Regions from separate parts of the Homo sapiens genome. Here region 2 is linked to region 1. Evidence: fine-mapped expression QTL. A gene starts in region 1. The other region holds a variant in brackets. All regions are shown on one strand. Distances are between the middles of the regions. Region 1 holds the start of SAV1 (salvador family WW domain containing protein 1). Region 2 overlaps NIN (ninein).

Region 1 (15,737 bases):
ATCCAGACTGGGTGCTGCGGCACATGCCTGTAATCCCAGCACTTTGGGAGGCCAAGGCAGGCAGATTGCTTGAGCTTGGGAGTTTGACCAGCCTGGGCAACACTGAAATTCAGTCTCTACTAAAAATACAAAAAATTAGCCAGGTGTGGTGGTGCATGCCTGTAGTCCCAGCTACTCAGGAGGCTGAGGTGGGAGGATTGCTTGAGCCCGAGGTCGAGGCTGCAGTGAGCTGTGATCATGCTACTGCACTACAGCCCGGGCAACAGAGCAAGATCCTGTCTCAAAAAAGAAAATAGAAGAGAAGAACAAGAAAACAATGATCCTAGATCACACAGACCCCCTTGATAGTTTCCAGAATTTGGACTGGCCAAACAGGCCAGGCCACTTTGATCACTGGTGATCTCACCTCCTGCAAACTCTTCTGCTAAGCTATAGGTTTAAACAGTAACCTGCCATTTTTTCCCAGCTTTCTTTCCATAGTAACTGGCAGTCACAAACACTACTGTAAAACCTAAGACTGGTCTTCGAGATATTTTTCAGACTTTGCTTACAAGTGGACCAACTGACACCAAATGGACCAGTGTTCCATGAACTCAACCAAGGAACTGACTTGGTCTTGTGACTCCCCAATTTCCCAGCAACTGATTCAGCACATGAAGACAGCATTGATAACCCTATGATCTCATACCAGTCCAATCACCAGCACCCATCCCCTAGCCCCCTGCCTGCCAAATCATCTTTAAATATCTTAGCTTCTCCAGTCTTGGCGGTGATGACTCTGAGAAACATTTCCCATCCTCCTTACTCAGCTGCCTTGCAATAATTAAACTCTTTCTTCTTTACAGTATCTGCTGTCTCAGTGTTCTGCTCTATTCGGATAGCAGACAAGAGCCCAGTCAGGTGGTAACATTGTTTTATAGCATTTTTTGGATACATAATTATTTGCACATGTTTATGGGGTACATGTGATATTGTGATACATGCAAAGAGTATGAAATAATCAAGTCAGGGTATTTAGGGTATCCATCACCGTGAGTATTTATCATTTCTATGTGTTGGGAACATTTCAAGTCCTCTCTTTTAGCTATTTCAAAATGTTAACTGTAGTTACCCTACTCTGCTATCAAACCTTAGAACTTATTCCATCTAACTTTATGTTTGGACCCATTAACCTACCTCTCTTTACCTCCCCTCCCATCCTTCCCAACCTCTGCTATCATTCTATCTCCATGAAATCAATGTGTTTCGCTCCCACATGTGAGTAAGAACATGAGACACTTCTCTTTCTGTGCCTGATTTCCCTTAATATAATGACCTCCAGTTCCATTCAAGCTGCTGCAAATGACATGATAAACATGGGAGTGCAGGTATTTCTTTGATATACTGATTTCTTTTCCTTTAGATAGATACCCAGCAGTGGAACTGCCGGATCATATGGTAGTTCTGTTTTCGGTTTTCTGAGAAATTTCCAAACTGTTTTTCATAGTGCCTGTCCTAATTATTGTAACATTCCCACCAACAGTCTGTAACAGTTGCCTTTTCTTCACACTCTCACCAGTAGTATATTTTTTTGTCTTTTTAACAATAGCCATTCTGACTGGGGTAAGACACCTCACTGTGGTTTTCACTTACATTTCCTTGACGATTAGTGATGTTGCACATTTTTTCACATACCTTTTGGCCATTTGTATGTCTTCTTTTGAGAAACGTCTATTCATGTCCTTTGCCCACTTTTTAATGGGGTTGTTTTTCTTACTGTTGGCTTCCTTGCATATTCTGGATATTAGTCCCTTGCTGGATGAATCTTTTGCAAACACTTTCTCCTATTCAATATGTTGTCTCTTCATTCTGTTGTTTCCTTTACTGTGCAGACGCCTTTTGGTTTAATATAGTCCCATATGTCTATTTGTTTTTGTTGCCTGTGCTTTTGAGGTCTTAGCCATAAAATCTTTGTTAGATCGATGTCCTGAAGTGTTTCCCCTACATTTTCTTCTAGTACTTTTATAATTTCAGGTCTTAAGTCTTTAATCCATCTCAAGTTGAATTTGCATATGGTGAGACAAGGGTCAGATTTCATTCTTCTGCATGTGGATATCCAATTTTCCCAGCATCGTTTATTGAAGAAAGTGTCCTTTTCCCAATGCACGTTCTTGGTGCTTTTGTAAAAAAATCAGTTGGCTGTAAATATGTGGATTTATTTCTGCATTACCTATTTTTGTTCCATTGGTCTATGTGTCTTTCTATACCAATACCATATTATTGTGGTTACTATAGCCTTATTTGTGGTTACTATAACCTTGTATGTGGTTACTATAGCCTTATTTCGAAGACAGGTAGTGTGATGCTTCTAGCTTTGTTCGGTTTGCTCAGGATTACTTTGGGTATTTGGGCTCCTTGTTGGTTCTGTGGAAATTTTAGGATTGTTTTATTTCTGTGAAAAATGACTGGTATTTTAATAGGGATTGCATTCAATCTGTAGATTACTTTGAGCAACATGGTCATTTTAATGATGTTAATTCTTCTGACCCATGAGCATGGGATGTCTTTCCATTTGTTTTTGTGCTCTTCAATTTCTTTCATCAGTGTTTTGAAATCTTGTTATTTATTTATTTATTTATTTATTTTGAGACGGAGTCTCACTCTGTTGCCCAGGCTGGAGTGCAGTGGCGCAATCTCAGCTCACTGCAAGCTCCGCCTCCCGGGTTCACACCATTCTCCTGCCTCAGCCTCCCAAGTAGCTGGGACTACAGGCGCCTGCCACCACGCCCGGCTAATTTTTTTATTTTTAGTAGAGACAGGGTTTCACCGTGTTAGCCAGGATGGCCTCAATCTCCTGACCTCGTGATCCACCCTCCTTGGCCTCCCAAAGTGCTGGGATTACAGGCGTGAGCCACCGTGCCCAGCCTGAAATCTTATTTTTTTAATGACATACTTGAATCTGAAAACGTATGCAATTAACTTGTACTTTATTTTGAAGTTGTGACTGGAAAGTTGCTTTAAAGTCTGTCTTTAAACTTAGAAAAATTATCTCAAATTGCTCCTAAGAGAGGATCAGTAGAGATTTAGTTCTTATAGTATTTCCTCAATTATATTTGGCAAATTAGATTTTCAAAACAAGAGTTTAACTTGTTATTAATTCCTCATATTTACATACTTAAACCTCAGGTAGAAAAGTATTACAAGCTATCAGTGACGTCTACAATATAGGTGGGAAAGGTGAACGCAAAGAATAACACATATTCTATATTAACAGTAAACATAGCTATTTCTGTTCTCCCTCAGCTACCAAAAACTGTCTTAAGCCTCCAGATTTAAAACCGCTGGGTTCATTCACTCATTCAGCCATTTATTTTTGTGAGCATCTCTTAGGCAGTCATGTGCTGTGCTAATCCTATCTGACTCTTCCCTCTCCTTTGTCCTTCAAACCCCGTTAGTGGCCAAGTCCCATTAATGTGGGCGTGTCCCACTTCTCCTCTTTCCAAATTTCTGAAGTATAGGTCAAGTCCTCATTAACCACTGAATATGCACCAAATGGAAGATTACGCAGTCATTAAAACCACTCATAAAAAGTATACAACATGAAGAAAATCATTCAAGTAAAAAGAACAGAAAACTGTACAAAATATTATATAATCACATCCATGTAAAAAAAGAATTTGGCATGGAAAAAGATGAAGAAAATAACATACTAAGAGGATCTCTGGTGGACAGGTACTTTGCCTTTACGTTTCTGCATTTTGCAAATTTCCTGTAATAAGCAGTTATTATTCTAGAAGAAAATATAAATGAGCTTTATTTTTAAAACTTACTATTTTAGTTAGATAACAAATTATTCCTGAGGTTCAGAACTGCATATCAGAAATAACCAAAATAAACACTCAAGCATGCAGCTAATTCTTTAACCTAATTCCTTAAAAACTAAAAGGTGCTTTTACCCATGCCTCTTACTGCATTTCCACATGCCTAGAAAACCTCTCCTCTACAATGTTCCAGTGAGACTCTGATGTCAGCTTTCATAAAATAAGTTGTTCTTACCAACTATTCCACATTATTTTTAAAACTTCAGTGATCTGCTTTCTCCTAAACTCTAATTCTCATTTTTCCTTTAAAAGCATCCTAGATTTGCGTTTTCCTATTACCACTGGTACCCACTGGTACCTGCAATCCTCTTTTCTCTAGGAATCTACCCTTAATTCTAGTACAAAACTAATCTTTAAACACTGCTTTCATAAAATCACTTGTCTTTCCGAAATGTGCAAGAGCTTCCACTTGACTCAAATCTAAGCCTATTGTTGAACCACAAATCTCCACTCAACCTTACATCTTATTTCTTCAAACCAGGCAGAACTACACTGTTCCTTATATTTAAACCATGCCTACTCTGTTTTCATTGTGCTATTCCCAATTTTCCACGTAAAATGTCCTTCTTCTGGCCCTTGTTAATCTAAAGGCCAAGCTCAAGGCCCACTCCAAGTCCTACCTCTTCCATGAATCATCTCTTTAAGTATTCCAGCCTATACTCATCTCTCTTCTGATTCCCTGTTGCACTTACAGTTAGTATCACAAAGTATAACAATTTTTCTGTGACCATTGTGTATAGATTGGTTTTGTTTCCACAAATAAGGTACTAGACAAATAAGGTACCAGAAAGCAGAGACCAACAGACCCAAGGAAAACGCTAGACACATAAACAGTTAATATTAAATGAATAAATTTTTTCTACAGTCAAAATACTAATGCTCCAAACCATTTTTAAGTCGCCTTATTTGAAGTTATGTGAGCCAAAAAGTAAATCTGTCTCACATTTTATTTTTATCCTGCCAAAATTTAAAGTCTATAACTTGGTAGAAAAAAAAAATCAGACAAGAAAGTTTAATTTTCATCTCACTTCATTTTATCTGGTAAAACCAGGACTTCAGGAATAAAGTAGAATTGTACATTTCTCCCATCTCTTCTGCTCCTTTCAGAAGTATCTCCAACTCAGGAGATATGGAAAGTACCTTCTTTTCTTAAATTATATGGTAATTTTTTTTGTCTGTTACAAAAATAATAAAAAGACATGCTCAACACATAATTAACCATATGACAATAAGTCTTTTTGATCAACTCAGGAAATAATTCTTGAACTACTTTTTGTTGAGAAAAAGGGCAGGATCTAGCGAAGTAATGTGGTTGCTCAGGGTATCACTGAGCATGCCCAGTTGTTCCTACTCTTCTTTCCTTTCCCAAGTTTGTCAAGTGTCTCTGAGGACTCCGTCAAGTGTCTCTGAAGACTTACCCTTCCCATTATTCTACCAAACCTAAACCTAAATTCAGCCCAACTGGAGACATTAAATTCTCTAGGTTTTCAAGGGTCACAGCATTAAGAGTCTAGACAGCCTTGAGATAAATACCAAGTTTACATAACATGAGTTAATAAAATAAATGGTCACAAGGACTCTTCCATTCAGTGTAGATTAACAACTATTTGCACACAGGCTTAAGCAGGATGAGCAAAGTGGAAAAACATTTCGCTAGTAGTATTTGTTCGTGTCCCAAGAAAATCTAGAAAAGAACATCTTTTTAATTGACATGTCAATAAATATAAACTACTATATTATTTATAATGTTAAGCTACCTGAAGCATGCCTCCCCTGATTCTGTGGCATTCTTTGGAAGAGATCATGGTTGTATTCATAATATCTGTAGTCTTCATGTGCACGATCTCCAAGTGGCCGCTTTCTCTGACCATCAAAAAAATTGTCTGAATAATAATATCGGGAACCAGAGTCTCCATTTTCAACAGCAAAACTAACTTCCGTTACAAATGACTGAGAAGAACCATACTCTCTAGGGACATCTGCTAGACTTCTGGCAAGATAAGAAGGTGCAGATAATCTGTTGCTTTCTCTTCTCATTATTTCATGAGGTGTTCTTTGAATTGGAGTTCTAAGGAAACTCTGGTTTCTTGAAACTACATCTCCAGAAGTTGAAAAGGCATTAGGGCTTGAATCTGGAAGACAGATATCAGTTCGTCTTGGAATTGTTGGACCATGCCGGATGAATGAAGGCATAAGATCTACAATAAAACAAAGGATAAAATTACCCTTTCATCATTAAGTAACAAAAGTTTTCGAAATTTGTTCATTTATGTCTACCACCCCAAAATCAAAATGTCAGTCAACTTAAGAAAACACAATTTTAAATTTTGGTTTAGGATGGTACTTGGGCATTTTAAATTGAGGAAGATTAATATTTTCCCAATCAAATGAATTTATATAACTTGCATTAATGGACTATGCGTAAAAGCTCAGCTAGAATAAAATGTATTCTGCATACTACCATACATAATATGATAAAATATCAATAATCTTATCTATGAACTACACATTAATGAAATGCTCATGAATTAATGTATAAAAATAGGAAATAATATAACAAATTGATAGTTTCTAGTTAAGTAGTTTATTTTGTTGTTCTCACTTCATTTTAGAAACTGCCAAAAATCCTTCTTGAAGCAAACACAATTTCAAAAATAGAACTTAATGCTACTCCCAAATATGTAAAAGTGGATTCCTTTAAAAATTAAAAAATTAGTAGCTCTTTCTTCTCTTGGAATTACCTAGCACTAGCACAGTAATCAAAAGCTAGAAAGCCAAAAATTTATGTATGAAAATTGAAAATAAAAAGCTCTCATTTCAAAGAAGCACACAAATGTAGAAGTGGCTCAAAAAACCAAGCCTGAAACTATGTAATTATAATTCAAAATAGTAGATAATAGAACAACAGCTTTTAGGATACAGTACTTTTAAACACGAAACTTGAAAACAGCTTAAGACATTCCCAGTTAGAAAGCAAATACCTTTAAAACAAGACAAAAACCTGAATATGCAGACCCTCTTATTATTCATCAAGTAAACAATATTGGAGACACTCATATTAATAAGCTTCAGAAACTAACACTGGACAGAAACAAATATCTGAATAAATAAGGCTCAACACTTGATGTAACGACAACAAAACAAAGTAGATCAAAAGTTATTTGCTTAACTGTGACAAACATTAACAAAACTGCACGTTCTACACATGTACCCCAGAACTTAAAGTATAATAAAAAGTGTGACAAACATAATTCACGATTTCAAGTAATGTCTGATAAACTTTATTTGCAGCAAACAGCAAGCTATCACTTAAAAACAGCCAGAAACCTAACTGCATGTGTGACTGAAAATCAAGTTGTTAAAAAAAAAAAAAAACAACTTAAAAATCAAGTTTCGAGTTACTGATGTACTCAACTGACATATATTTTGTTGAAAGTATTGCAAGTACCACCATAAATCTGGAAGGCTGACAATGTGGTTATGATGGAAAAACATGCTCTCCCATCTGTGTGATCTTGGGCAAATACTAGAAACCTAACTTTCCCAATTACAATATGAGGTAATACTTAAGTCACAAGGTTACTACCAGCTTCCAAGAAGGAAACTTAAGCAAAGGGCCCAGGGCGCAGTAAGAGCACCAAAATACCAGCTCCATGCCTCACAAATGTCCTGAACACACAAGAATTAAAAATTCAAGAGATTCAACTCAAAAATCAAATACTTACATTAAGAAGAAAAGCAGCGGGGGACCGGAGGTGGGGATTGGGAGTGGGATCTACCCTATTAAAAAAAAAAACTTTTCGAGGGGGGGGTTCTCTAATACGATAGAAATTATTTTGAGTTGCCTTCTTGGAATCTCACGAATATAGCCAAATACAAAGGCTTTTGGCTCTCTGCTCTGCTGTGTAAGAGTGATGAGGCTTTGGGTGGCGGCTACAAGAACGACGGTATGCTTTTCACCTTCTCAAGTCTGCATCCGGCAGCAGGACTAAGGAATTCTGCCCCAGAGTTCGCACAACTTGCAGCACAGTCGAGAGACACCCGCAATGTTTGCAAACATGACGCACATCTCGACGCATCTAAAAGAGTAAAAAGTGTCCCTGTCTAATTACTTTTACTCCTATAGCATTAGGTGATAAGCAATTTAAATGTTTCCTACTCTCTCTTCCAGTAATCAAAACCAACAACTCTGCCTGGTGGGGCGAGGAAGTCTGTTATTTTTAGGGGGTGCTCTTGGGGGGGTTAGGCGCGGGGGGGACTAACCCAAGTTTCTTACTCTTATGGGCTTTCAATCAACGAATACCACTTCAGACACAAGAAAATCTCAAAACCAGTATTTCACGCGACCAAGGACGAAGGAGAAGCCCTGGAGACCCGCCGGCGCCCCCGCCAGGGTCCCCGGAGCACCTGGCCGCCTGGGCCAGGTGTGGGCACGCCCCGCCTGACACTCACTCCGAAGCAGAGGCGACGTCTCCTTCTTCACGTACTTCCCCTGCACCTCGGCCGGCTTGGACACTTCGTTTTTGGTTTTCTTTCGGGACAGCATCCTTCTCGACGAGGCCCGAGGCCGCGCTGAACTGCCTCCCTAGGGCTCCGCGCCGGGCGCCGGCCGTCTCCGCCGCCACCTCCGCCGGCGCCGCCGCCTCCTTCCCTCCCGAGCCGCCGCCTCCGCCGCCGCCTGTCCGGAGCCCGGGGTCGCCCGCAGGGACTGCCGCATGTTCAGGGCGCTAAGCGCGCCGGCCGCCGCTCAGTCGCTGGTCAGTTCCTTCCCGGAAGTCGGCCCGCTCTGCGACGCTGCTCGGGGACGCCGTGAGGAAAGCCCAGCGACGCCGGGCCAGGGCCAGGGCCATGGTCCGCCGCGGGCCGCCGAATAACCGCTACCACTACCGCCGCCGCCGCCTACATCCCGTAAACTTTCCCCGCGGCCGCTGGGAATTCTGGGAAGCTCGACGCAGCGCGGGCCGCCGCTGCCCCTCCCCCACCGCGGCTCCAGGCGCGGCTCCGGCGGCGGGACTCGGGTGCCGGCGCTCTAGGCTACCGGGCCGTCCCCGCCGAGCTGCGGCTGTCCTCACTCATCCTCAGCGAGAAGCAGGTCCTGCCGACTGAGAAGATGAAGGACGAAACCTGCCCCGCTGAGTGCGGGAGTTCGTCGCATGCGCATGTCGTGGAACCTACTCTCCACGAGTTTTTATTGTTGTTGCTTTTGTACCCCCTCGGGATCCCTAGCGGAGGCAGTGACTCTCTTTCCCCCCAAGACGTTGTTCCCTGTTTGAAGGTGTTCTTCCTAATGTTTCCTAGGCTGCTGAATTCAGCTCTCTAAAAAATGCGGAATGCTAACCATGACTCCCAGGCAAGTGCTACACCAAAGCATCTATTCTGCTGGAAACGTTCATGCTGATTAACTAGAAATAAGTTGATCCTCTACTGAGTATCAGGGAGTGCGTTTTTCTATAACAGGAAAAAACGGAAGAATGCAAGATGGAATTTCCAGTACCTCTTTTTAAGATACAATTGGTGTTAGCATATTACAATTATTTTATTGCATCATCACTATCATTAGTATGATTAATAGCCACATATTTCCTCCTGACGTTATGTGTTATGATCTTAGAATTTTGAAGACTTTGACCACTGCGAGTCGGGACCGGGAATTTTCTATCTAAAATAATAGACTCTACTTCCTTCTATATAACTTAGCAAGACTGCCAAATGTACAGGATAACATTTGGAAAATAAGATTGGATTCATCCCCTAGTGACCAAATTAATGCTTTAATAATGAGGAATGCTTTCCCTGAGATCTAAAACATCTCACAAGAGATCTAAGACATATATCACAATTAACAAAAGACATGGAATTTTTTACCACGTAAGATTAAGAAGATGGTCAAATGTTTTACCATGAGCAAACAAAGGAGACATTTGATCTAGTGTCTGTCTCCATATGTTCCCTTGGTGCAGATCTCCCACAATTCATTCATTAACCAGGAAATACTCATTACCCACTGCGCTAGTCGTTTGTGATAGAGCAATAAGCAAAACAGACAAAAATCCCTACTGTCATGGGAAAGAGAAAAAAATGACAAAAAATAAGCAAAACATACTATGTTAGATAGTGATAAGTGATGAAGTGAAAATAAGAGAGGACTCACAATTTTTGAGAGGGTAATAGAGGGACCAGAGAAGGCTCATGAGGAGGTGACATTGGAGTTAAGTGACAGAGTGAGGAAATTGGCCATGCAGCTAACTGGAGGAACAATATTCCAGGCAGAAAGAACAGCAAGTGCAAAGTCGCTGCAAGTGGCCATGTTCCTGGCAGATTGGAGGAACAGTAAGAGGGTTTATGTACTGGAAAAGACGGGGAGACGAATGGGGAATGCAGTTAGAGAGTAACAATAGCCACGGCACCTAGGGCTTTGTAGGCCATTGTAAGGAATGTTACTTTGAGCAGAGGAGTGACATGATCTGAGTTAATGTTTTCATAGGACTGCTTTGGATGCTGTGTGGAGAGTAGACAATGGAGCTAAGGGCAAAAGGGAGATCAGTCAGAAGTTATTGCTGGCTTGGACCCAGGCAATAATAGGTGGAGAGGTAAGTGGACATATTTTAGACATATTTTAAAGAAAGCCAACCAAATTTGCTGACATTGAATATGGAGTGTGGGAGTATCAATCACTGCCATGGGTATGAAAATCTTAATAAACAGAATTGGAACTCACTAGAAGCAGAGTGTACTCTGAGAGAAACATTAGAAAAACAGTTACTTGTTCCTGTGGTTCAGAAATAAGGACGAGTCCTAAAGCGTTGATAGTGTGCAGGGAGAAGAAAGAGTGATGAAACTTAAGTGAGAGCACAATGGGGTTTTGTTACACATCAGGGTATGAAGGCGGGAGCTGAAGGAGGAAGGGGGAGCCAAAGAAGTGCCAGGTTTCTGCCTAAGGCTTACCTCAGAGAAGGACAAAAGGATATTAGCATCTTGTTAATAAAGGCAACTCTTCACACCTGGAGTTTTCCCAGAGCCTGAAGTACGGGGACACCTTTCACATGTGCGGAGGAAAGAATCCTAGAATTTTATAGTTGAAAAAGAATTCTGAGATTGCCTAGGCTCACCTCATCAACATCAAAAAGGAACGAGAAAAATTAAGTGTTTTGTCTCAGATTACATTCCTGGTTAATGACAGAATAGCATCAGAACTGGAGTTTTCAATTCCCTTTTTTTCCCCCCTGAGGCAGAGTCTTGCTCTATCCCTCAGGCAGGAGTGCAGTAGCACTATCTCAGCTCACTGCAACTGCTGCCTCTCAGGTTCAAGCGATCCTCCTACCTTGGCCTCCTGACTAGCTAGGATTACAAGCGCCCGCCACCACACCTGGCTATTTTTTGTATTTTTAGTAGAGACTGGATTTCATCATGTTGGCCAGGCTGGTCCCGAACTCCTGGCCTCAAGTGATCTGCCCGCCTCGGCCTCCCAAAGTGCTGCAATTGTAGGCGTGAGCCACCAGGCCAGCCTCAATTTCCGTTTGGGGCTCTTTACTGCTACGGAACATTCAGAATCCCACTAATGTGAGTCCAGACTGTTTCTAACAGTTGTTTTGAAAGCCGTCTGTGTTCCTTAGAGAGTACTCCCTTTTACAATGCTATTTAATTTCTGTGGATTATAGCAGAGAGAAAGCCTTAATTAGGTGCTCTATTTAAGACAACTAATTTGCCTTTTTATCAAGGAGGGTACATTCCAGAATCAACAATGTGCAGGCAGCATTAGCTATAGCAATGCACAACAAATATGTGAACTTTGAATTTGAATCCTTAAATCTAAAAGCTTTGAATTCATGTTTGTTTTCTAGAAATTCCTTGACTTCTGAGAATTTTTATTAAGGAATTCAGATTTGCTGTAGTTCTACGGAGCTGTAATTCTCCAGACATTGCCTTCAATAATGCTAATACTGCATTCCATAATAGAGATTTTTTTTTTCCCCTTACAGTTACATTCTTAGTGGAGAAAACTGGCAATTAGGGAGCTTCTCATGTTTTAACAACTTTTTTAAAAAATTAATTTAGTATTAAAATTTATTTTAGTGGAGCCTATAAGGTATGACCCTGGGCTAACCTCATAGCATTCTGAGTTCTTAGTTGTCTCATCTGAAAATGAAGAAAGTGAACCATTTGTTTTTTTTTTTTTTTTTTTTTTGAGACAAAGTCTTGCTCTGTCGCCCAGGCTGGAGTGCAGTGGCATGATCTCGGCTCACTGCAAGCTCCGCTTCCCGGGTTCAGGCCATTCTCCTGCCTCAGCCTCCCTAGTAGCTGGGACTACAGGCGCCTGCCACCACACTCGGCTGATTTTTTGTAGTTTTAGTGGAGACGGGGTTTCACCGTGTTAGCCAGGATGGTCTCGATCTCCTGACCTCGTGATCCACCCACCTTGGCCTCCCAAAGTGCTGGGATTACCGGCGTGAGCCACTGTGCCCGGCCAAACCCTTTGATTTCTAAAGTGTCTTTCAGTCCTGGAGTTTTCTGCCATGTAGGCAGAAGGGAATATGCAAAAATAAAAACTTACCTTCATAGGATAAGAGAAATGTTGGTGATTTTCTTTCTTTAAAAAGTTTGTTCTTTATTCAAGTATTAAAGAAAATATTAAAATATCAGCATTATATAAAATCATGATTAGCATAAAAATAAAATTTCGTGCCAGATTGTTACTTTCAAAGACAGCTAAGGTCTTTATGCTATGTTGACTTCCTCGTTGGAAGCATGTAAAATTTTAAAGGGTGAACTATTCAGTGAAAGATTATCCAAGAAAGACAACCAAAATGGAAATAAGCCCTACATATGGCGCCTCAGAAAAAAAAAAAAAAAAAGGAAAAAAGGAGAGGAACTTCTAGTCTACTCTCCAGCTCACTCTTCTTCTTCACATAACAAGATAAACTTAATCTGTCTCAGGAAGATGTAATAATTATGCCAATTATAGCTCTTCAAGTCTCCAAAATTTTGCTATTAAAATATGGGAGGGGGCTGGGCGAGATGGCCTGCGTCTATAATCCCAGCACTTTGGGAGGCCAAGGCGGGTGGATCACCTGAGGTCAGGAGTTTGAGACCAGCCTGGCCAACATGGTGAAACCCCATCTCTACTAAAAATACAAAAATTACCGGGGTGTGGTGATGTGTGCCTGTAATCCCAGCTACTCTGGAGGCTGAGGCAGGAGAATCGCTTGAACTAGGGAGGCAGAGGTTGCAGTGGGCTGAGATCGCACCACTGCACTCCAGCCTGAGCAACAGAGTGAGACTCTGTCTCAAAAAAATAAAAAATAAAATATGGGAGGGTAAATTCCTAAGTGTCCTTTAGGCAGAAACTTTGGTTGTTTCCTATGAAGGATAAGGGTGTGTAATGTCTACACAGATCTGAAGATATTATATAATTGCTTAATATTAGCAATTTAGTAGGGTTCCTAAACTCCTGTTATGTAAGATGAATCATCCCCCCAGTAACATAAAGAATTAGTATCACAATTCTTTTTTTTTTTTTTTTTTTGAGACGGAGTCTCGCTCTTTCGCCCAGGCTGGAGTGCAGTGGCGCGATCTCGGTTTACTGCAAGCTCCGCCTTCCGGGTTCACGCCATTCTCCTACCTCAGCCTCCCGAGTAGCTGGGACTACAGGCGCCCGCCACTGTGCCCAGCAAATTTTTTTTTTTTTTGTATTTTTAGTAGAGACGGTGTTTCACCATGTTAGCCAAGATGGTCTCGATCTCCTGACCTCGTGATCCACCCGCTTTGGCCTCCCAAAGTGCTGGGATTACAGGCGTGAGCCACTGCGCCCAGCTTAGTATCACAATTCTAATCAAAAGGAGTCAAGCTGGGAGATTCGGTGTCTCTGAGCTTAGCTTTTGTTCTTATGTACTGTTATTGCCTAGACTTAGAGGTCCTCTGAAACCTTGACAGAAAGCCAAAATGAGTCTTCTATTTTTGGCAGCACTGGCCTCGGACTTCAGTTGTCTGTCCTTCTGGTTCTTTCTGTATCTTGACTTCTCTGACCCTAGAAACTTTTATTTTGCTTCCAGAATTGGGCCGTATCTTCAGCCACTTTCAACTTTATTTTTAAACTATTCTTTGCAATTATCAGTTTTTACTTGGCTTCGTGATGTTGTGAAATATATATTTGGTCTTCATCTGTTTCCTGACATAGAGTTCTTAAACCCTTGTAATCTCCAGAAGAGTGTCTTTTGTATGCTAATGAGATGACTGGTGGCTAGATAGCTTCAGAATAAGGGCTGGTCACCCAAGAAAGACCAAAGTAGGATTAGAGGGTGGGGACTTTCAGCCCCACCACCAACCTTCTGGGACGGGAGAGGGGCTGAAGGTTAAGTTGACCACCAATAGCCAATGATGTATTAAGTCATTTCTACATAATGGAGCTTCCATAAAACCACAAATGACTGGCTTTTGAGAGTTTCTGGATGGCTAAACACACAGGTTCCTGGAAGCTGCCATTCCTAGGGAGGGCATGGAAGCTCCATGCCCCTTTTCCCATACCTCTCCCTATGTGTCCCTTCCATCTCGATGTTCACAGGTATCCTTTATTCTATTCTTTTTAGTAAACTGGTAAACACAGTTTTTCCCTGAGTTCTGTGAGCTGCTCTAATAAATTAATAAAACCCAAGAAGGGAGTTGTGGGAACACCAATTTATAGCTGATGGGTCAGAAACACAGGTCACAATGTGGGGCTTGCGATTGGCATCTGAAGTGGGGCAATCTTGTGGGACTAAGCCCTCAATCTATGGGATCCTATCAGGTAGATTGTGTTAAAAATTGAATTTAATACATCTATTTGAAATAGTTTCAAGGAAGAAGTTTAAACAGAACTTCTTCAGTAGAGCCAGAATGTAAAAAATTAAGAAAAAAATGGAAATGTCCCATTCCATGTGGAGACTGGCCACATAAATATATCTCCTCTCCCTCCTGGAACCCCAGTTAATTGACAGTGAAAGAATATAGAGAGAATAAACTTATAATTATTATGAGAACACAAAATAGGCCATCAGATCAGTAGATGTGACATTAATAAATGTCTAGAAGATGAAGAGTGATAGGGTTGCAAGAGGTGGGAGGAGATCAAGAGACAATGAAGCAGGATGAAGTATTTTAGTTCACAGCCTAAGATGCTCATGGAAGCACATATTGCCAAAGGCCGAGGCGAGGCTTGGGATCACGTGCACCTGGTTTAATTAAGGAAGATAGGACACTAACGTGGAGCCGAGAAGAGCCATTAATTGAAAGTTAGACGTACACCCCCATAGAATTTCAGGTGTTAGGCACCTATTCCCTTGAAAAGGGATATTCAGGTTCTGTTTTTGGATAAATTAAATGGCCCTATGATAAAAATTTTAGCATTCTGACATTTGTATATCCTACAAACCAAAGAACTAAATCTCATAGAGCAGCGTCCGGGTAGTAGGCCCTGATCCCTCAAATAGCACACTCACAAGTGTTTGCTTTTTTGTTTTGTTTTGTTTTTGTTTTTGAGACAGGGTCTCACTCTGTCACCCATGCTGGAGTGCAGTGGCACAATCACGGCTCACTGCAATCTCGACTTCAACCTCCCGGGCTCAATCCATCGTCCTATCTCAGCCTCCCAAGTAGCTGGGACTACAGGTGCATGCCACCACACCTGGCTAATCTTTCCATTTTTGTAGAGACCAGATATCACCATGTTGCCCAGGCTGGTGCCAAACTGCTGGGCTCAAGCGATCCTCCCACCTCAACTTCCCAAAGTGCTGGGATTATTAGAGGCATGAGCCATCATGCCTGTGTTTGCTTTTTTAATGTATCATTCTAAAATATAAGTATGCAATCAAGGATCACCAGAAATTTCAGGAAAACTTGCAACAT
Region 2 (15,737 bases), 53 kb after region 1:
GAAAATCCCTTGAGCCCAGGAGTTTGAGGCTGTAGTGAGCTAACATTGTTGCGTTGCACTCCAGTCTGGGTGACTATGAAATCCTGTCTCTTTTTTTTTTTTTTTTTTTTTTTTGTAAAGTAATGGAATTGTTAAGCAATGTTGAAATCAGTGATTATGAATTTAAAGTGAGGCCAGTTGGAGCAGCTGACTGTCTTTCTCTGGCCATTTTCAGTTGCTTTGGTGTAATTGCAGAATAGGAAAAGAGTTTAGTTTAACCAGGGTTGGGAAGTTGGGATTGCCATAGGTAAATGTCATAAAGGTAGATAGGGGCAAGCAAAGTGATTGTGTTTCAGGGGAAGTGGCTCTAGTGATAGATCATGGAACATAAGCTGAGTAAAGAGATCATGAGGACATGAGGTAGATGTAAGGCTTAGTGGTGGACAGTGGAAAAGTGGTGGGATCAATGGATAGAGGAAACAAATTTTAGAAGTGAAGAAGAAGAAAGATGGATGTCCAAAGTCTTGGATGCTTGAAATAAAGACCAGAGATAGTGAAATTATTGACAAGGTAGAGTGTGGTCTCATCTTTCTCTCCACAATTCAAATATATCAAATATGAGATATTGAAAGCACTAAGAGTAGTGATAGAGGTAGTAGTGAGAAAAAGACAGTGACCCAAGTTCTAAAATCAGTGAGGGAGGTGGCCAGGAGGTAGGTAGATGACTGCAACAAGGAATGTCTAATCTGTTTCTAATTATAGCCTACTGCTTGGGATTGATCTGTTGGAAAATCAGTAGTAATGAGGCTTGAATTTGTATATTATATACAAATATATAATATGGAAATGTATATATTATACTGTAATATACAAATGTATATATTCTCTCTACATATATATTATATATCTCCCTGTCAGTGGTATCATAGCCATGAGAGGAATGGCCTGAGCAAAGCACACAGCAATCTTGGCTCATTTACAGATTGCAATGGACAATTTACCAGCCAGTGAAGTGATCACCTTGTGGGCTAAGGTGGAGAAAAGATGTCTAACTAGGGGAAGGGAGTGGAATAAAAACCCTGTAGTTAATTTTGTACTTTGTACTTCTAGAAAGTATAAAGAAGCTTAAATAATCTTTTCAAAGGAAATCTTCAAAGGTGTACTCATTTGTTGTCTACTACTTGTTTGGGGGTTCCTCTTATAGGTTCCACTGTGAATCGCTATTCCTAAGTAGATGGGAACATCTGTAGAAAACTCTTTGTGCCTATGTCCAGATCATACTGTTCTGTGGGCAAAAACCTCGTGGCTTCTTTTCTAAAGCCCCCATTTTCAGACACCTATTGGAAATCTTAGGAGCAGTAATGTCAGTTTCTTCTCCCCAATACCACATGTTTACTTCTCCAGTTATCTCTGGTCAATGAAGACAAGCGCAGTCTTATTTCAGGGTCAAAGTACAGCCAATTTAGTACTGCTTGAAAAGTGGAATCCAAGGGCTGTCACCCTGGGCATCAATATAAAAATAAAATTGCTGCATTTAATTAGCTTCCACCACTGCAGGCTACTGCTGCTGCTTTCTCTCCCCCGCAAGATTCTACCACTTTTTCTTTCCCCAGGTGGATGTATCACGTTTAAACGTGAAAATTGCCCTGTTCTCTTCAGGAAACCAACCGTAGAACTAAACTCTACCTTTCTTGGACTTCATCTTTTCTAGAATTGCATACATCTTGTATCTTCTCTAGGGTCAGGCTGGAAAATCAAGACCACTTTATCCTTCCCCGATATCCAACTAATTCTAGGTCTCAATTAGGATAAGGTTTGGCTGCATATAATAAGAAAATCCAAAATAATAGTTACTTAAACAACTAAAAGTTTATTCCTTTTTCGTAAAGTCCAGAAGGAATTGAGGCCTCACATGATAGCTAAATGAATTTGTCAGAGATCTAGGCTCTTTCCAGCTCTCTACACTGCCATCTATAGGAGGTGGCCCTCATCTTTATGGTCCAACATAGTTGCTAGATCTTCAATCATCATCTTCACTCTAGGCAGTAGGAACAAAAACAGGTGTATTCCCCCTCTTTATTTTTGGAGATGGGGTCTTGCTCTGTTGCCCAGGCAGGAGTGCAGTGTAGTAATCATAGCTACTGCAGCCTCAAACTCCTGAGCTTAAGGGATCCTCCCACCTTAGCTTCCTGAGTAGCTAGGACTGCAGGCACTGTGTCTGGCTAAATTTAAAAAAAAAAAAAATTTTTAGAGACAAGATCTCACTATACTGCCCAGGCTGGTCTCACACTCCTGGGCTTAAGTGACATTCCTGCCTCAGTCTCCCTAGTAGCTGGGACTATAGGATTATGCCATCATGCCAGCTTATCCCCTCTTTTAAGAAGTCTTCCCAGACCTCCTGCATATCAGTGGCCAAAACCTAGTCACATGGTCACATCTAGCTGCAAAAGAGGCTAGAGAATATAGTCTTATAGCTGGGTAATAACATGCATGGTCAAATTTCAGCCTTCTTTTTTTTAAGGAGGAAGGGGAGGATGGTTAACTGGAAGCAACTATTTGTCCTGCCTTTTCCTCCTACTCAATACATAGACAACATAGCAAGAGATACTGTTGCCCTTTGAGAAGCCAAACAGAGTTTAGTATGGCTAAATTCACTAATTATTACTTTATGAATTAATCAGAAGGTATTCTTAAGAATTTAAAATCTTAAGTATTCTCACCACAAAAGTGATAAGAATGTGAGGTTATATATGTTAATTAGCTCAATTTAGCTATTTCACAATGTATATGTATTTCTTTTCTTTTTCTTTTTTTTTTTTTTTGAGATGGACTCTTGCTCTGTTGCCCAGGCTGGAGTGCAGTGGTGCGATCTCGGCTCATTGCAAGCTCCGCCTCCCGGGTTCACGCCATTCTTGTGCCTCAGCCTCCTGAGTAGCTGGGACTACAGGTGCCTGCCACCATGCCCCGCTCATTTTTTTTTTTTGTATTTTTAGTAGAGATGGGGTTTCGCCATGTTAGCCAGAATGGTCTTGATCTCGTGACCTCGTGATCCGCCCGCCTCAGCCTCCCAAAGTGCTGGGATTACAGGTGTGAGCCACCGTGCCCAGCCATGTATATGTATTTCAAAACATTGCATAAGATATATATGTACAATTTTTATTTGTCGATTTAAAAAAGAATGGAGACTTGAGGACATGGGGTGTTCTTAAACAGTAGTGTGACATTCAGTCTTATTTTAGAAGAATCCTATTTGGAGGCTGTGTGGGGAGAGCAGGTTGGAGTGGGGCAACTTTAAGAGGTTCATGGTAACCTTGGCAAGTACAGATTTGATGAAATGATGGGGGCGGGGTCAGGGAAAGGCAATTCCAAATCTTGGACTTTCAGATCATTGATTTTTTTCTAATGTCTTGTGATCTTTTTCTTTTACCCACTTCACCATTATGTGAACTACCTCAGAATTGCTTATTTTAAATATCCTGCTTTTTGACCATCATTTAAGAAAAAATATTTCCAACAAATCTACTTTAGCATCTCCACTTCAAAAAAGCCTTTACTCCCAAACACTGACCCTACCAGTTTTCATACACATCAACCATCTGCCCACATCCACCTCTGGTTCTTGCTTATACCCACTGTGACTTGCATGGACACTGTTAAATTTACATGTAGTATCTGGAGAATACATAGGAATCAGGACAAAGGGGTGGGGAGAGGGCAAGGACAAAAGAAGGAATGATATGAGAAATAGTGCTAAGATGAGTGACCACACTTGTCACTAGACAGCACTGAATATGGTACTTTTTTTTTTTTTTTTTTTTTGAGAAGGAGTCTCATTCTGTCACCCAAGCTGGAGTGCAATGGTGCGATCTTGGCTCACTGCCACCTCCGCCTCCCGGGTTCAAGCGATTCTCCTGACTCAGCCTCCTGAGTAGCTGGGATTACAGGCGCGCGCCACCATGCCCGGCTGATTTTTGTATTTTTAGTAGAGACGGGGTTTCACCGTGTTAGTCAGGATGGTCTCAAATCTCCTAACCTTGTGATCCACCTGCCTCTGCCTCCCAAAGTGCTGAGATTACAGGCGTGAGCCACTGTGCCTGGCCAGTGCTGAACTTTTCATAATAAACTATAGGTGTATGGTTAGGCTAGCATAAATGGTTTCTAGTGAGTTTTTACTCAGAATACCATCTATTCTTCAGAGTAGCTAGAAGGGCAAGGAAGATTAAGGTGCTTGACACCACACTTAGTACATTTTTTTATCCATAACACTTCAAACATTTTAACTGGAAATCATTTCAAACTTACAAATAGGGTTACAATGATAATACAAATAATCCTTGCTTCATTGCCTTATTTCTCTCACTCTCTCACATTCTCCCTCACACGTGTATGCACATGCCTGGGTAATTTTGTTTCTGGATCATTTAAGAATAAGTTGCATATATCAGTCGGGCATGGTGGCTCATGCCTATAATCCCAGCACTTTGGGAGGCTGAGGCAGGTGGATCACGAGGTCAGGAGATCGACACCATCCTGGCTAACACAGTGAAACCCCGTCTCTACTAAAAATACAAAAAAATAGCCGGGCGTGGTGGCGGGTGCCTGTAGTCCCAGCTACTCGGGAGGCTGAGGCAGGAGAATGGCATGAACCTGGGAGGCGCAGGTTGCAGTGAGCCAAGATTGCACCACTGCACTCCAGCCTGGGTGACAGAGCAAGACTCCGTCTCAATTTTTTTTTAAGTTGCATATATCATAGTCTCTATTCCTAAATACACCAGTGTATACTTTTGTAGAAGATACTTTTACATAAATGCAGTAACTAACTTCAGTATATTTAATATTGATATAATACTGTTTTCTAAGCTACTATCCTTATTCCAATTTTGTCAGTAACTTCAATGTCCTTTATAGCAGTGGCCCCCAAACTCTTTGGCACCAGGGTCTGGTTTTGTGGAAGACAATTTCCCATGGACCGGGGTTGAAAGGGGACGGATGGTTTTGGGATGATTCAAACGCATTATGTTTATTGTGTATCTTATTTCTATTATTACATTGTAATATATAATGAAATAATTATATAATTCACCATAATGTAGACTTAGAGGGAGCCCTGAGCTTGTTTTCCTGCAACTAGACGGTCCCATCTGGGGGTTATGGGAGACAGTGACAGATCATCAGGCATTAATTAGATTCTCCTAAGGAGTGCGTAACCTAGATCCCTTGCATGTGCAGTTCACAATAAGGTTTGCGCTCCTATGAGAATCTAATGCCACGGCTGATAAGACAGGAGGCAGAGCTCATGCACTAATGGGAATACGGGGAATGGCTGTAAATACAGATGAAGTTTTGCTTGGGTCACCTGCTGCTCACCTCCTGCTGTGTGGCCTGGTTCCTAATGCCCAGGAGGCTGGGGACCACCTGCTTTACATTTTCTTCTCCAACACAGAATCTAGTGTAGGATTAGGTACTGCATTTAGTTATCATGTCTACTTAGACTCCTTTAATTTGGAACACGGCCACGTCTTTTTTTTTTTTTGACATTGACACTTTTTAAAGAGTCCCTTTTATTGTTCACAGTATTAAAATACTAGATAACCTGTTAGTACCTGGCACAGGGTTAGTACTTATTTATTGCTTGATCTTGAAGACAGATATGCCTCCAAACAGGAAAGAAAAATGATTGGTAAATGTTCATCTGGGCTGTAAGCACTGTTAAGAGCTGTCTACTTTGCCTTAACTAGTAAAGCATATCCCATGTAATCATTTTTCAGAATTAAATACTATTTTAATACAAGGGTATCCAGCTCTATTTTACATTGTTGCCTACTCATTACAACATTTCACTGATTTAGTTATACAGTTCTCTGCTTTGGAATTTTAACTTTATATGGAATTTTTAAAAAAGTCTGTCAAAACTAGCCATGTCTCCTGATTTGCAAGTGAAGCAACCAAAGAATAGAAAGCACTTCTGGGTGAAATTTAACCTTTTGATCAGGAGATTATATAATAGACATTTCACATAATTTAAGTGAGAATTCCAGTCTTATGGCCAAAACATAACTATTATTATGGGGAAAATGGACATCAAGTACATGTTAGAAAATTACTTCTTATAATTTTGCACAGTAAATAAGACTACAAAACACACAGGCTGCACAAATCTCAATGAAGTGCAGAATTATATTGAATGCTAGGTTAAGGACCTTACCCATTTGACACTAATCTTATTTTGGTGCTCATAGCACAGAGTCCATCAACATTTGATTATCTTCTGTATGGATGTAGATTTTCTAATCTTCTTTTCTGTGTAAATCTTACCACTCCACCACAAACAGATGGCAGGAATGTTTTACACAGTACTTTCTTCAGAGTGCAGTGTACATGGTTGCCATTGAACCAACACTGATAGTTCTGCCAGAAGTAGGAACTGATAGAAGTGTTGCAACACAGGACAAACCTGAGCCTCTAGTCCCAAGTTCCCGACCTAGCTGGCAGTGTGGCCTTGAGTTTGCTAAGCTTCCATTTTCTCATCCATAAAATGGGAATAATGGTAGTTCCTGCCACATAAAGGCAGTATGAGGTTGGTATAAAAGCTTTGAAATGAAATAAAACAGGCTTGTGAGATGGGTCAGTTTGGCCAACATTTCCAATTCTACATTTCAGTGTTCAGCATATTAACATG[G/C]TTTTAGGTTGTTTTTGTGTTTCCAACTGCATATATCTCATCATTCATGAGCTGCTCAATTAAGAAAGTCTGAGCCACCCCTAAAGATGGCAACATGAAATAAAGCCATCTTTGAAGCACCCAAAATCACAAACAGGGCCTTGCCCAAGGTTAAGTCATGATTCTGCAGGTAAACTATGCACTGCCACAGTATACGGGGACCCCAAACTGGCTGGTGTAAAAGTCATCCTTCTATAATAGAAATGGAGTCCCAATGCTCTAAATCCTATACAAATCACTTGGGGAATCTCTTTAAAATGAAGATTCTGATTTAGTAGGTCTGGAGTGCGGGCTGAGATTCTGCATTTGTAGAATGTGTTTAGTGAAATATTTTGATGCTACCATTCTAAAGACCAATGATAAATACACTGAAACTTTATTAAAAGGTCAGGGTATATAGAAAACAAAAGGCATGTTTGCAAAATTATTTATTTACATCTTAAGCTCACATTAAAATCTTTCTAGGATAGAATGGCTAAGATGAAATATACAAAGCTGATATAAACACAGAACTCATTAATCTTTATCTGAACAGAAACATAGAGATGGCTTTAGATAATCTGTTTTTCCTTCACAAACCAATGTTCCCTTAAGTCATGCCATGATAATGTCTCCCCATTAAGAACTTAACTTGTATTGCCCAAAAAAGCTGAGAAGCAAAAAGCTAACTTTGATTTGTTAAACAGCTATTCATATGCCACAAAACCAAAACTATTTTACAGTGCTGAGAGGTCCAGATAGGTCCAAACATGATGATTTTTAAATGAGTGCTTTGGTTAATTAGGCTTTGACTTGGTTTTTGGCATTACTTGTATAATTATATCATTCCAATGAGTCACTACAGGTAATCCATTCAAAACATGACTTGCTTAATACTATCACAAAGCACTTAGCCTTGCCTTGACTGGAAATACCTTTAAGATGCTGACAATAGCAACAATTTCTCCTTTCCTTCACTCAGCAAAAGAAATCACATAAATCACAAAATAAAAAATTCATTTCTCACATGTTAAAAAAGCAAAGTCTGCCATAAACCCTTAGAGAAGAAACAGTTTCTCATAATATCTGCCCTGGGTAATAGTGCATTATTAAAATACTAGACCTGCAAGATCTCTTCCTATGCCTTGGAAGCCTATGACTTCATGATCTATTCATGAAAAATATGCCGAAGGCTAAATATGCAATGCATTGAAATTTCTGGGAAGAATTCACATTTAAAACAGTTTAAAAAATCTGGATTTAGTAAGAGTTTTAGAAAAATAAATAAAACACTGTGGTTCTACTTCTCCCCTTCTACTCTCCCTTCACAAATCTAAGCTTAAGTGCAGGCTTCTAAAAAGCAGAAGAGAGTACAATAGGATGAGAGAGGTGGGTTTTACTATCCACATTTTCCTTTTCTTAGTGTAACGTATTATCTCAAAGGCAAACTTGATTCCCTTTTCTTGAAACGAAGATCCCATCTTCTGAGACGATCTTAAATAATTGTTCTTAAATCAAAAAGTTTGAAAATCAGTGCTTTTAATAAGCAACTAAATGCCTATAAAATATATAACTTAATATTTTGAAGAATGCTATTGTAAAGTTTGAAACAAGATCTAAACATTTTTAAGTTTACATTTAATGTCTTTAAAAGGTCTTTTAAAAGCTATAAGTTCTATTATAAATTGCCAACTAAATTATAAATTGCCACTCACCTTCTCAAAAATTGTTGCACAAATGCATACATTTAAGGTATCTGTATGGTATTTCTCATATTGATCTTTTTCCCAATCTCATAAGTGGGATAAAATGAGAAATTAAGCACCTAGATGTTGGTTAAATTCATTTGAGCAGCATTTTGATTTTGAATAGAGATTCTAAATGTAGTCTAAACTTTCCAGAAAGTCATATTTACATTCATTGTACATTTTATATACACATAAATACAAATTTATAGGAAATAAACAAATTAACCTACACCTCTCATACTGTAAAAGACAAAAATTAAAAATACAACAACCGTGATCACATGCTAAGGCCAGCTATCTGGGAAATATTATTGTTCAGTTCCAACAGCAATAACTTTGAGTAACTTGACACATATCACATAAATACACTACAGGTACTTAGTTTATTTTTGTCCTTAGCCTAGGCCAATCCACAGTTTTAAGTGAAACAATTTTCTGTGAAAGCTAATGCCATACAAGTAGTCAAACACTTACTAGAAATGTCTGCACCACAGAAGAAAGATCTAAAGAAGGCATAATAGCAGATGTCAAATATTTTGAAGTATAATTATAGGGAAGGATTAAAATTAACTCTTTATCCAGGGGGAACTCAGGGCTTTCTGACAAGAGCTGTGCAAAAATTCAAAGGTTTGCTTCATCAGTGTGAACTCCCAGTCCCACAAAAAACAGTGCCTTGTCAAGGCTCTTGTAGTGAGGCCTCCTGGGTTGACCGGTGAGACTCATAAGCCCCCAAGAAACCCTGAAGTTCCCTGATGGAAATTATTTTGTTGAGATTGAGTTTCTGACATGATGACTTCTTGGGCAGTTTGCTTTCTCTTGTGTTCCTGCCCATAAAGCAGTGCTTGATTTTGCTGTTCACCTTTTGTAAATAGATGGGCTTGGCCCTCCAGGAATATATCAAAGCGAACTTTTCGGATTATTGTCTCATGAAAACAAGCAGGTTGTTGTGATGAACTTGGAAAGTGCCCTGCACCTAGTAAGTCTTCCACCAACTGCTGGCGGAAGTGGCTAGCAGAGATTATAATTGGAAGAAAAAAAAGGTTACCGAATCTAAAATGTTGACTGTTCTATAAAGTTTTGATCTTGAGCATGAGTGGAAAGTCCTATTTGGCACTCCTTGACCTCAGGTGGCATGCCAATGATTATCACAGTAAGAAATTCTTAGAATCAGATTTGAGGTATAGAAGGAATAAGAAACACAGAAAATTTTGACCTATATTAAATAAACTCTTCTATAAGTCAGGTTTTTAACCCTAAAATCAAGGCCTTTTTTCCCCCAGAATATTAAATTTACTAAAAACGTAGAAATAAAAATTCTAGTATGGCTGTAAATATATAAGACAAATAAATGAGGTCACATGGTTTATACATTTCAAATTCTTAGAGAGGCCCTACAGTAGTTCAGGAAGACAGTTTACAGTATTGTTCCCTGAGTTCTTGAGGCAACCTCAAGTAAATTTATGAACTCTAAGATTTGAGAGACAGAAAACCTACATGGTCTGCTTATCCCTCTTTTCTAAGAGTAGCTATTTACTCCAAAGTGGTTTGTTCAGTGCTTTCCCTATAGTTCAACTGCTTTAATTATGTGGCTTTATCCGTTTCTTAGAAGACCAGCTCCCCAAATGAAACTTTTAAGAGAAAGAAGAAAAGGCTGTTTAAAGCAAGTAAGCTTTTAACATTAGTTAAGAGTGCAATTGAGTAAATCAGTTCTAAATCTATAATACAAGAAGAGTGGTAATACTGTCACAGGTGTTAGAAGGTTAGAATTCTACAGATTTGGGTTTGTCTGATGTCAGCGGTTAATAACCACTTAATAAGCCCTGCCTCCTAACCAATTATACTCTACTAATTGTCTACCAATTCAAAGAACCAAAACTATTATAATGACTTTCCAGTATTTAAATATGTAAGAACACCTAAATTTGGTTTTAAAATAAAGTTTATAACAACCATTCTCATCAGATCTCAAACTTCAAATATCTAGATTTTACACATAGATTTGTAATAATTAAAAAAAAAACCAAAACCACAAAAACTCATTCAAAACTGGTATTTTTTAGGTTCTTGAATTTTCATATGTCCACATTCTTGGTGGCTATTAAAATTTTAAAATAAATTCAAATCTTGGGAATAATTTAAGTAGTGAAATATGTGAGTATTTATTTTCAAACTCCCATAAGGGTCTATTTAGAAAAACTAATTATGATAAATGGAAACTCCAGTTGTGTTGCTGGCAGTTTTAGGTTAGGCTTAATTTTAAGTTGAGAACCTACTGAAATGTTCATCTATTTCAGTAAAGTGCACAAATATGAGTGTACCCTTTGGTTTGGCTATGACCTCAAAGGAGGTGTAGAAGTCAATGGCGCTGGTGTCAGATTCCTAACTATATTACTGAGGCTGGCAATCTTCTCCTCCAGGAGGTAATTTTTCTTCTCTGCTGTTTTCTGTCGCTGTTCAGTCACTTCCAGAGCTTTCAACAACTGGGCATTTTCAACATACAAGTCCTTCACCATTGCGTCTGCCTTAGTGTTCTTGCAGAGCTAGAAACAGAACCAGAAACATCTTGACTCCATTTCTGTAACTCTTCTTAAACCTTCAGTTTAAGGTCTGACATAAGGACAGTTGTTTTATAAAGGCAAATCACTTCGTCTAATTATATTCTTTTATTTTACAAAATAGCTTTAACATCAGACTTGGCATCAGGGACACCATTGGAACAAATCTACTTTTTCTAAGCTATTTCTTTGCATGAGATGTTTATGTCAGTTACTAATAGAACAGATTGATATTAGATGGCACCAAAAGTTTTTTTTCTACCTAAATAGGCATTATTTCTGTATTTATTCTTTAAAAATATCAAATACTTTTATAACTTAAATTCCTGAGGTGTCAGGTGTGGACTGTTTAACTCTGCTTGTAACAACAGATACTTGAACTTACCATTCGTAACTACAACCCACTGATTATTTTAAAATTTAGCTCATGTATTATAACAGAGATAAGATTTGGGCAGTTACTTCTCCTGAATTGTCTTTGTTTTTGTTTTGTTTTGCATGGGGCCTTGTCTAGTCTAATCTTTATAGTTAGAATATATGGTCTAGGTTGGGGTGGGAAAACTTGTTAGCAGCCTTGGGATACTTTCATTGTTGTTCTGGTTAATATTTTCCAGTCCCCCTTCCCATGTTACAAGTGTTCATTTTACACCCAATTTCAAGTAGGGCATCTAAAAGTATAAAGGTTTATGAGAATAAAGAGTAACTAAAGAGTAGCTTAACAACCTATTAGCATTTCAAAGGGCAGGGATAAGGATGACAGCACTCTCAAGCTCAGAACCTAGATGACTGGCAGACATCACATAACATTTCAGAACATATTTTCTGTTGAACTTCCTGAATACAACTTTTTTTCCTCCCTCCCTCTCTTCCTTTCCTTAAAAAAACACTTTGATGGTTCTTCATTGCCGACAGAATAAAAATCAAGCTTCTTTCTTGGCTCAGCACTGGAGGCCTACTGTCCTGTTCCCCCTTCCTCTCTAGTCTCTCCTCCTGCTTCTCCCAGGACAGTGTGAACTGGCAATGCTGAAGTGTTTATACGTGTCCACACCCCACATGTGGTCATAACTCCATGATGTTCCCACAGCCTAGGATACCCTTCCCCACACTTTCTTAACTAGTTGAAATCTTAACTCTCAAGATGCAGCTTCAGAGGTCTTCAGGAAGCTTTCTTTAAACTCCTGGGTTGGATCAAATATGTCTTTCTCTTGTGTTCTCCTCTACTGAAAACAGGACGGATCCCACTTATTTCTGAACCTACCATTTGGCCAAACGCTTGGCACCTTGTAAGTGCATTCTATATGGGCAGGGGCTTTGTTCACTGTTGTATCCCTGTGCCCACGGCAGGACCTGGCCCACAGTAACTATGTGTTGAATGCTTGAATATGTAAAGAACTGAATGGATAAATGCTCACTGAATGGGACTTTTTCTTCCCTGTGTATTAAGAAACAGGACAACCAAAAGTTGCTGTCTACAGCTGAATTCAGACCCTCTCTTGGGGTTGTTATTCTTAGCTTTTAAGTATCTAAAGAACTAGGTTGGGCATTTTCTGCCCCCCACCCCACATGTTCATCTCAGTTTCCAGAGAGGCTATAACACTCTCCCAGAGGGTAGTACTTTCTGCTTGTCTCTTCAGTGGATGCGCAACTAATTTCTAAACACCAAGGCCACATCTGCCACCAGCAGGTGAAAAGGAGCAGGCTGTTTAAGTGGTCCTGGAATCTGGGGTCTAGATTCTAACTCAAAGTACATCTTTTTGGAGTCTAGCTGTAGCAATAAGATACTTGTTGAGGTTTTCATAAGCTGTTGGGAACAGGAAAGCTAAAGTTCCATTTATTATCCCCCTATTTTTTTAACCAATATCATTTTTCAATTTAAATAGGAATATTTCCTGTCTTGGGCAGAGAAAAATCTGTTGATTCACAGGGACCTAAAGCATGTGAATGGACATGCTTTAGGTCTATGTGAATCAATAGATTTTTTTTGATCTTTAAAATCTTAGGTCCATGTAAATCATGTTAGCAAAGATTTACACTTTTAAATTGTGGACAAACATGCCTTAAACAGAGCTTTGGAAAAAATACAGAGTTCGTATTTTTTGGGGTGATATGAGGGATAGCAAATCCTAAGTTCTTACAGACATTTATAATAGAATTTGCCTTTATTAGACAACATAAGTTAACGAGTTAATGGCAATAAAGGGATGTAAAACTGGAGTTAAAGCTGGAATGTGAGGTGGGTGAACAGAGATGACCGGGTAGGCTCACTTGTTCTTTGAGCTGATTCACTTTCTCTTGAAGAAGCCTTTTCACTAGTTTCAGTTTCTGTTCAACTTCTATCATTCGTTCCTCCATGACAGTTACCAGTTGTTCCTGGTTTCCCTGAAGGGAAGAAAAGTATATTATTCGAAAATCATGTCACACTGAAAACACTGGTTTATTTTCCCCACAAGATGCCTAGAGAAAGGACAGCAAATGTTTTGCCTTTGTAACAGGAAGGATGGATTTCTCATGAAATGAGAGTTTTGAGCCCTGCATGGATTGCATATGTCAGAAAAGTAACCCTATCAGATAAAGGATCAGACTGAAAAATCAAAAGAATCTTACCTGTGTTACCATCATCCCCCTGATATAAAGCAAAATTCTGAAAACCCATAATTTAATACCTGTGAGTACCTCTAGTAAAATGGACATCCAAGGTAACTTGGAAGATCGCTATCAACCTCCCATCTGTGATCTGGGTCTCTGCAATGTTATGGGCCTCTCAACAACAAAACAAGCACTGAATATATTCAGGGTTTCCTAACATAACCAATCAGCTTGCAATATGCATGTCTGTTTTTCCTTTGAAGTGGCTGATGACTGTGAGGGTGGTAAGTTTCTTTCTTCATAATAGCCTCTTCCTGCCAATTTTTCTAGTCATCTGTTTCCCACTTGTAAATGTGAAGCACACATCTGGATTGGAGGATGGGTTTACTATCAGAGCAGATTGAAAATGAAAAATCTCCTGTTCTCACACAACGGTGATGGGTTAAGGAGTAAGTGAGTTTTGGAGAGGAGAGAGACCTAGAGAGATTAGAATGCAATTGACTTATTAGAATGCAACCCCCATCCCTCTGCAGTCCACCAAAATGTCCCCATAAGGAATTTCAGATTTCATAAAGGTATTAACAGCTGATGGTAGTTAAGATATACTTTAAAAGACATGCAGAATGACTAAACATGAGTCAAAGGCTACCATCTGTTTAGATACTAAGTAGTAACACTTAATCATAAAAGAAACCCTAAATCATGTAGTAACTATCCGGAGGATAAAAATTGTAATAGGCAAAGGTCTAATGCAGGAAGTAAGTTACAAAAAATTGGGCCTGGAGGACATCTAGCTTTTAAAAAGGCCTATATTTAAAAAAAAATAATAGCTTTTTAAAGTTCAAACATAAATACAAAATGATGTCTATTTGCCCAACAAAGCAAAACAAAAAAAAAGATAATTCAAAGAACATAGAGTTGGCAAAAGAGTGGAAAAACAGGAAAAACAAAGGCAGTCATATACTTAAAATTTATTTTATTGTTTCATCAAAAATTTCCTGTCAAAAAGATTTGTACATCTTATACAAAACAGTATAAATACCCCTGGTTTTCTTCAAATTCCATATATAAAAGTAGTACCTTTGGTTAAAAATAGTTACAACATATGGAATGAGAAAATATATAGACTACATCCTTTCAAGAATCTTAAATCCACACTCTTTAAAGGGTATAAATAAAATGATTTGTAACAAGCTGATGTTTGTGAATTTGATTCACAAGATCTGTCATTTCTACATAAATAAATAAGAGACATAATACTGCAAAGGTTTAACAGTAAAAATAATAAAATAATTTAAAAGAGCACTTAATTCCAACATATCTTAGCTTATGTCTCTGTGTGTGGTGTGTGTGCATGGGTGGGTGTGTGCATCTGTCTGCCATGGTAAGAAATGCCATCAATAGCAGCCCAGTTTTCACAGGTGCCCAATCCTTCTGTAGGAATCTGCGTGCACTGCTCGCTGCTCCGGTAGCAAGGCCTAGAGAAAGAAGGCAAGTAGTACACTTCACCCTCATGTCAGGATGAGTTTTTAGGGGGAGTCTAAATTCACACATCTACAATGCAAACAATTTTTAAAAGCACACACATTAACACTACATAGGCAAGCAAAGCAACACAAAATGCAGAAGAGATCACATCACTCCACACACAGAAACGTGCAGATTTAACAATATTCTGCATTCTTAAAATTAGTGTCAGCTCAGCAGCGGGAAATGGGAGAGCCTGCAGTAGCATTCTGGTGAGAGTAATAAGCCGTCCACTCTGTCATCTGGTTGGAGGATTTTTTTTTTCTTTCAAAAATCTTAGTTTTTGTCTAATCCTGAAGGAATTGGAGGAAAAGGATATTTTTTTTAACATTGGTGGGTGGGTTGGAAACAGCAGGCTTTGAAAATAGGGTGTAAGAGAGCAATGAGAAGAATCTTGGCGGATCATTTGGTTAGAAGGTCCACTAAAAACTGAGATCAAAGTTTTGTAGTTCAATTATATACTGGAGAGTTAAAGCATCTAACACTCTACCATCACAATTTAAGAACTTTAATACTGGGAAGTTGAAGAGGTATGTATAAAGCTTCCAAAAACAGATTTTAAAGCTCATAAAACAAAAACCTTCTAAAGTTTATTAGAAATACAGCATAGGTACATATGTAGAGGGAAAAGTTTATTAGAACTGA

The links.
Region 2: its variant is fine-mapped to the expression of SAV1 in whole blood (TOPMed, PIP 0.91).

Annotation. Positions count from the first base shown.
Region 1 is chr14:50,659,562-50,675,298 of GRCh38, forward strand. SAV1 (salvador family WW domain containing protein 1) reads right to left here and starts at 8,745. Exons shown (of 5, transcript NM_021818.4): 1 at 8,313-8,745; 2 at 5,618-6,058. The coding sequence starts at 8,406. RefSeq lists an enhancer at 7,743-7,812 and silencers at 8,173-8,302, 8,413-8,982.
Region 2 is chr14:50,712,709-50,728,445 of GRCh38, forward strand. It overlaps NIN (ninein), which reads right to left. Exons shown (of 31, transcript NM_020921.4): 30 at 13,245-13,358; 31 at 7,055-10,964. The coding sequence ends at 10,755. Among named protein-coding and RNA genes, the nearest start is that of SAV1, 52 kb to the left of the region's middle. The variant G/C (reference allele first, on the strand shown) is at 6,659.